Linked DNA regions of Homo sapiens: region 1 is linked to region 2. The links come from fine-mapping of genetic effects on gene expression. A gene starts in region 2. The other region holds a variant in brackets. All regions are shown on one strand. Distances are from middle to middle. Region 1 holds the start of TSGA13 (testis specific 13). Region 2 holds the start of CEP41 (centrosomal protein 41).

Region 1 (2,916 bases), 250 kb after region 2:
ACATCACGAAATCATAGTTTGGTGAAGAAGGCAAAGTCTTTGGCATGGGAACTTTCCATTTTGAAAATATCGTAATTATTCTTTTCTGGATTCTGGAGGAGACAGAGGGAATTTGTGATGAATAGGCAATCTAGAATGCTGAGGTGTTCTGTGTTGGAGACAGAGAATGAAAAGGCCAAAACTTAAAGGCATATTTAAACAAAATCTGCCAATCTCTTATTTTGCCAGCCTATGACTTCTCTACACACACACACACACACACACACACACACACACACACACACACACATCTTCACCATCTCTTAATCTACCTCTACCTAAGCCAATGTTTTCACTGCATTCTTCAAATACAGTGAGCATTTTTTCTTATTCCCCATACTTAAAATGCTGTCCCCAATCTCTTCAGCCATTTGAATCTTCTCCTTCTCCTTCTCCTTCTCTTTCTTCTGACGGAGCCTCACACTGTCACAAGGCTGGAGTGCAGTGGCACAGTCTCAGTTCACTGCAACCTCTGTCTCCCTGGTTCAAGTGATTTTCCTGCCTCAGCCTCCAGAGTAGCTGGGACTACAGGCGCCTGCCACCATGCCCAGCTAATTTTTGTATTTTTAGTAGAGACGGGGTTTCACCATGTTGGCCAGGATGGTCTCGATCTCTTGACCTTGTGATCCACCCACCTCAGCCTCCCAAAGTGCTGGGATTACAGGCGTGAGCCACCATGCCCAGCCCTGAATCTTCTTTCTTTATGTTACTACTCAGGTCATTCCTTTAAAGAGAAGATTTTCTAGATTAATGCAATCCCAAACTCTAGACTATAGTCACTGGGTTTTGTGCATGTCATTGTATAGTGTCTTGTAGTTCTGTTTTCACTTTTCTTATGTGCGGGTCTTGTCTGCCTCTTAAGCTGTGAGTCCCTTAAAAGTGGAAATGTAAATTTTAAACATATTTGTGCCCCCCTCCCAGTGCTTTGTATCTTATGCATTCAAAACTAGTGTTTGCTTATTTCAATATATTTGCTGAACATTTATGACATATTAGACACTCTCCTAGGTGATGAGAACAAAGCATAAATCAGATGTAATTCTTGAGCTCCTTTAGGAGCTCACAGTTTAGCCAGGAAGAGAGACAAAGAAACGGTTGATTGCAACAGAGTAGAATGCCAAATTAGATCTAAATTTAGGGTACTATGGAAGCAATGAGGAAGGGGACTTAACCCATACTGAGAAGAGACTGAGAGAGATTTGGAACTACTGCCTAAACTGAGCTGGGGAAGATGAGTGTGAATTAACCAGGTGATGAGAG[G/A]ACAGACATTTGAGAAAGAGGGAGAAGCAGAGGCAAAAACATGAGAATACAACAAAGCCTGGCTTATTTAGGGGAATTGAAAATACTGTAATTGCAATATGCCAGGAACATAAGATTTAGGGGAAGGGTAGTGAGAGGTGAGACTAGAGAGGAAGACAGGATCCAAATCCTAAAATGAACTATTTGATAGGAAGTTTGTGGGTTATTCTGAGTAATGAAGCGCTAACAAGAGATTTTAAATGAGGTATAATCTCCTTATTGAACAATATATATTTTAGAAATACAAAAATAGTGGCATGTGAACTATAGATTGGAAAGACAGAAGAACTATAGATTAGAAAGATGCAAAGAGGTCCTTGAGAAGTCTATGACAGTGCTGAGGAGGGGTTGAGAAATTATAAGGGTCTATAGCCATCACCAATTAGTGCCATTCACTCCTGCATCCTAGCTCTGGATGATTGATTCAAAGGTGGCCAACCAGGTTATACTAAGAATTTGAAAGTTTGCTAATGACCCACAGAGCTGTAAGATGATTGCACCTGAGCCACCTCATGTGGTATCCCAGGCTGGAAGACTCTGAGCTCTGAGCTCTACCTGCTGAGGTCCCCGGAGCTGCCCCAGATCTAGTCCTTCCTAAAGCAAGACTACACAATTTTCTCTTCAGTTCTGTGAGCTTTCCTAATATTCTTTCAAATAAATCCTTTATTTTCTTAGGGTTCATTTCTGCAGTTTATGACCAAAAAAAAAAAAAAAAAAACCTAATATGGGCTCTGAAGCAGGGTGTCCAATCTTTTGGCTTCCCTGGGCCACGTTGGAAGAATTGTATTGGACCACACATAAAATACTCTAACGCTAACAATAGCTGATGAGCTAAAACAAATCACACAAAAAAAACTCATAATGTTTTAAGAAAGTTTTTGAATTTGTGTTGGGCTGCATTCAAAGCCATCCTGGGCCACGTGTGGCCCATGGGCCATGGGTTGGACAAGCTTGCTCTAAAGCAAGGTAGTGGCAGTGAAGAGGGTTAAAAAAGGATATATGAAAGATGTTAGGAGGGTAGAATTAATAGAACTTGGTAACTAGTTGAATACATGAGATAAGGAATATAATCACATTTTTAGCTTTGTTACCTGAGTTAATGGAGGTGCAAGTTACCAAATTAGAGAACAAAGGGAATGGAGCAAGTTTGGGGGATAAATGATGAATTTTGTTTCTGGTCAGTTGAGTATGAGGCAGAGGTGAGGATGTTGTCTAGTAAGTAGTTTAAAATATGGGACTGGAGCTCAGGAGAGACAGGTTTGGTACTATAGATTGAATGTTTATGTCCTCTGCCTCCCTAAATTCATATGTTGATACTGAGTCCCTAATTATGAGGGTATTAGGATGTGGAGCCTTTGTGGGGGCAATTAGTGCACTTATAGAAGTGGCTTCAAAAGCACATCTTTACTCCTTCTGCCATGTGAGGACACAACAAAAAGCCGGTCCTCACCAGATACTGAATGTGCCAGCACCTTGATTTTGGACTTCCCGGCCTCTGGAACTGTGAGAAATAAATTCCTGTTGTTTATAATCCACCCAGTTTATGGTATTTTGTTATAGCAGCCTGAACAGACTAAG
Region 2 (2,916 bases):
ATACAAAATATGTTAATCAAGTGTTTCTGTTATCAGGAAGCCTTCCAGTCAATAGTAGGCTATTAGTAGTTAAGTTTTTTTGCAGGGGGGAGGGGAGTAAAAAGTTGTACATGGATTTTCTACTGGGGGTTATGAGTCTGCTGTAATTATTATTAACTATAGTCACCATGCTGTGCCAGAGATCTCAAAAACCATTCCTCCTGTTTAACTGTAACTTTGTGCCCTTGGATCAACATCTTCCCATTTCTGCCCTCCTTCCCCCCACCCTCCAGGCTCTGGTAACCACCATTTTATTCTCTACTTCTATGAGCTGGACTTTTTAAGATGCCACGTATAAGTGAGATCATGCAGCATTTAGACATTACCAATTGACCATGGCTCTCTTGCAGGGCTTAGACTCAGCCTTACAGCTTTCTCAGCCTAGTACCAGGCAGCCACCAAGAGATGAAACAGTTACAACTCCTATTTGGGATAAAGGCTAAGAACCTCAGCAAGGCAGAGAAAGCCTGGACTCCTACAGGGGCCTGTTCTGAGTTCACACACTCCTTACCTTCACTTGGGCTGTTCTACCCGGGATGATGCTTCACCTGGCTAATGAATGGCCTTGCCACCCCTTCCATCTCCACAACCCTTCTCTCACTCCCTCAGTTGAGTACTACCTATTTTCTCGTAACATCTTGCTCCCCGACCACACTGTACTCAAATTCTGTTCACAGGCTCCTTCACTAGACGCAATTTATTTATTGTTTATTTTTATTTTTTTGAGACAGAGTCGCTCTTATCACCCAGGCTGGAGTGCAATGGCACGATCTCGGCTCACTGGAACCTCCATCTCCTGGGTTCAAGCGATTCTCCTGCCTCAGCCTACCGAGTAGCTGGGATTACAGGCGCCTCACCACCACGCCCGGCTAATTTTTGTATTTTTAGTAGAGACGGGGTTTCGCCATGTTGGCCAGGCTGGTCTCAAACTTCTGACTTCGTGATCCGCCCGCCTCGGCCTCCCAAAGTGCTGGGATTACAGGCTGAGCCACCGCGCCTGGTCCACTATACGCAATTTATTAAAGGGCAGAGGCCTTGTCTTCTTTGTACGTCTAGCACCTACTGCACCGTGGAAGTTTCCAATAACGTTTGTTGAAACTGCCACAAATGCAGCAGGGGACTAGCGGTGAAACAGATGAAGAAACTGAAGGGTCCTATGGAGAGAGGGGTAAGCCTAATGTCCTATTTTGCCCGTTTTCCAAAGGTTTGGTCAGCTTACTCCTGCTCTTCCTGTATCCCCACAATCAGAGATGCTGGCTGGCTTTCAACACGTGCCATTAGTGTGCAGCGCTTCCTTTGTCTTTTCTGTTTTGTAACTGTCACTCCGAGACTGTAAGCCATTTGAGGGCAAGGGCTGTGTCTTTGGGTACTTCGCTCCTCGCAGTCACAAGTACTGGCGTGCGTACGCGGGGAGAGATCGCTCCTCAAAACGGGGTCCTGAACGCTGCCCCGCGGCCCCCAAGCCCGGCCCGCCCCGCCCCTGCATCCCGACCCCTCCTCACGCCGGCCCCTTCCCGCCTTCCGGGCGGCGGAAGTCGCTGGCTGCTCTTCCCTGCCCACATGAGCCTTTTCCGGTGCGCCCGCCCCCTCCGGCTCTCCGGCCGAGACCTGGCCCTCACCTCAGGGTTCCCAATGTGCCTCCGGAGGGACATATTTTCTCCAACCGACCACGTTCGGGGTTCTAGCCTCACGGGTTGCCTCTAACCCTAGCTTCCTACCCCCACAACCTTGTTCAGCCGCCTCCCTATACCCTCTTCTCCGATTGGCCCGTCTTCCCCGGCCGGCCAATGGGGGCCCCGTTTACTCTCTCATCTCAGGGTCGCAGAAGGGCAAGACGCCGCTCAATGGTTGCCAAGGGCAACGCGGGACGCCGGCTAGCGAGGCCTTTTGTTCTCTGGGCTGGGGCTCGCCGGCTCCAGCCTTAGGGCGGGAAGAGAGGCGCGGGGGGAGGGGAAGGCTGGCGCCTGCGCAAAGCCGGGGGCGGGGGCAGTGGCTTGAGAGCCGGGACAAAACACGAGTTTTAGCTAATGTGGAACCATAAATACAACACAAGACTCCCCATCCCCCAGCTCCGTTTTATGGCCGTTTCAACCAAACATCTGGGCTACTGATTCCACAACAGGGAATATTATATGGGCCAGGGTTGTTCAGCAGAAATGGGAGAGTATGGTTTATTATTTTCTGGTTAAGTTAATATGCGAATTATGCAAAATACATGGGTAAATACAGTAATTATCGGTGCTTTAAAAGCTTTTAGGCTAGCTATAGAGCGACATCCTTAATTGCAAAGCACACGCGCTATTCTGTGGTTCATCGTTCATTTAACAAATACTTAATAAGCACCTTATGAGAAAAGCTGCAGTAGGTCTTGTGGAGAATGGGAGGATGACTAGGACCCAATCCCGTCGTCATGGAAACCATTGTGACTCCTGCCACCAGCCACCACCTGTTCCCATTCCGGATCTGAAAATGAAGTCCTAGCACCTTTACAAAACAATTACACACACAGTTTGACTTGGCTCCTAAATGTCCCACCAAATCCATCAAAATTATTATTTCCTTTTACATGAAAGGAACAACACAGTAACCCTTTGTCCTTTGCTCTAAGTTGTTTTTCCAGGAATGGAGAAAGGTTACTCTGAGCAGTTCATACTCGCCAGTTGTCTGTTAGTGAATAATAGCACACATTTGAGCTACTTCAGGGTCTGTGAGATGACCCATTCAACAACATGGCCTCACATGCCCTTGTTCTCTTAGGCACTTCAGCAACCCAACCTTAGGGCTACACCTTGGATCATGTTGCCAGTCAGTGCTGCTTGACCAGAATTTTGAATTCTGGCCACAGCTGCTTCTTGGACTTTTCATGTCACTCTTTCA

The links. PIP is the estimated chance that this variant, and not a neighbour inherited with it, causes the effect.
Region 1: its variant is the best candidate, but not a certain one, in a credible set for the expression of CEP41 in whole blood (TOPMed, PIP 0.89).

Annotation. Positions count from the first base shown.
Region 1 is chr7:130,686,452-130,689,367 of GRCh38, forward strand. TSGA13 (testis specific 13) reads right to left here and starts at 94. Exons shown (of 8, transcript NM_052933.4): 1 at 1-94. The variant G/A (reference allele first, on the strand shown) is at 1,300.
Region 2 is chr7:130,439,276-130,442,191 of GRCh38, forward strand. It overlaps CEP41 (centrosomal protein 41), which reads right to left and starts at 1,741. Exons shown (of 11, transcript NM_018718.3): 1 at 1,659-1,741. The coding sequence starts at 1,691. It overlaps LOC105375505 (a long non-coding RNA gene), which reads left to right and starts at 2,479. Exons shown (of 3, transcript XR_927973.3): 1 at 2,479-2,916. RefSeq lists an enhancer at 1,427-2,181.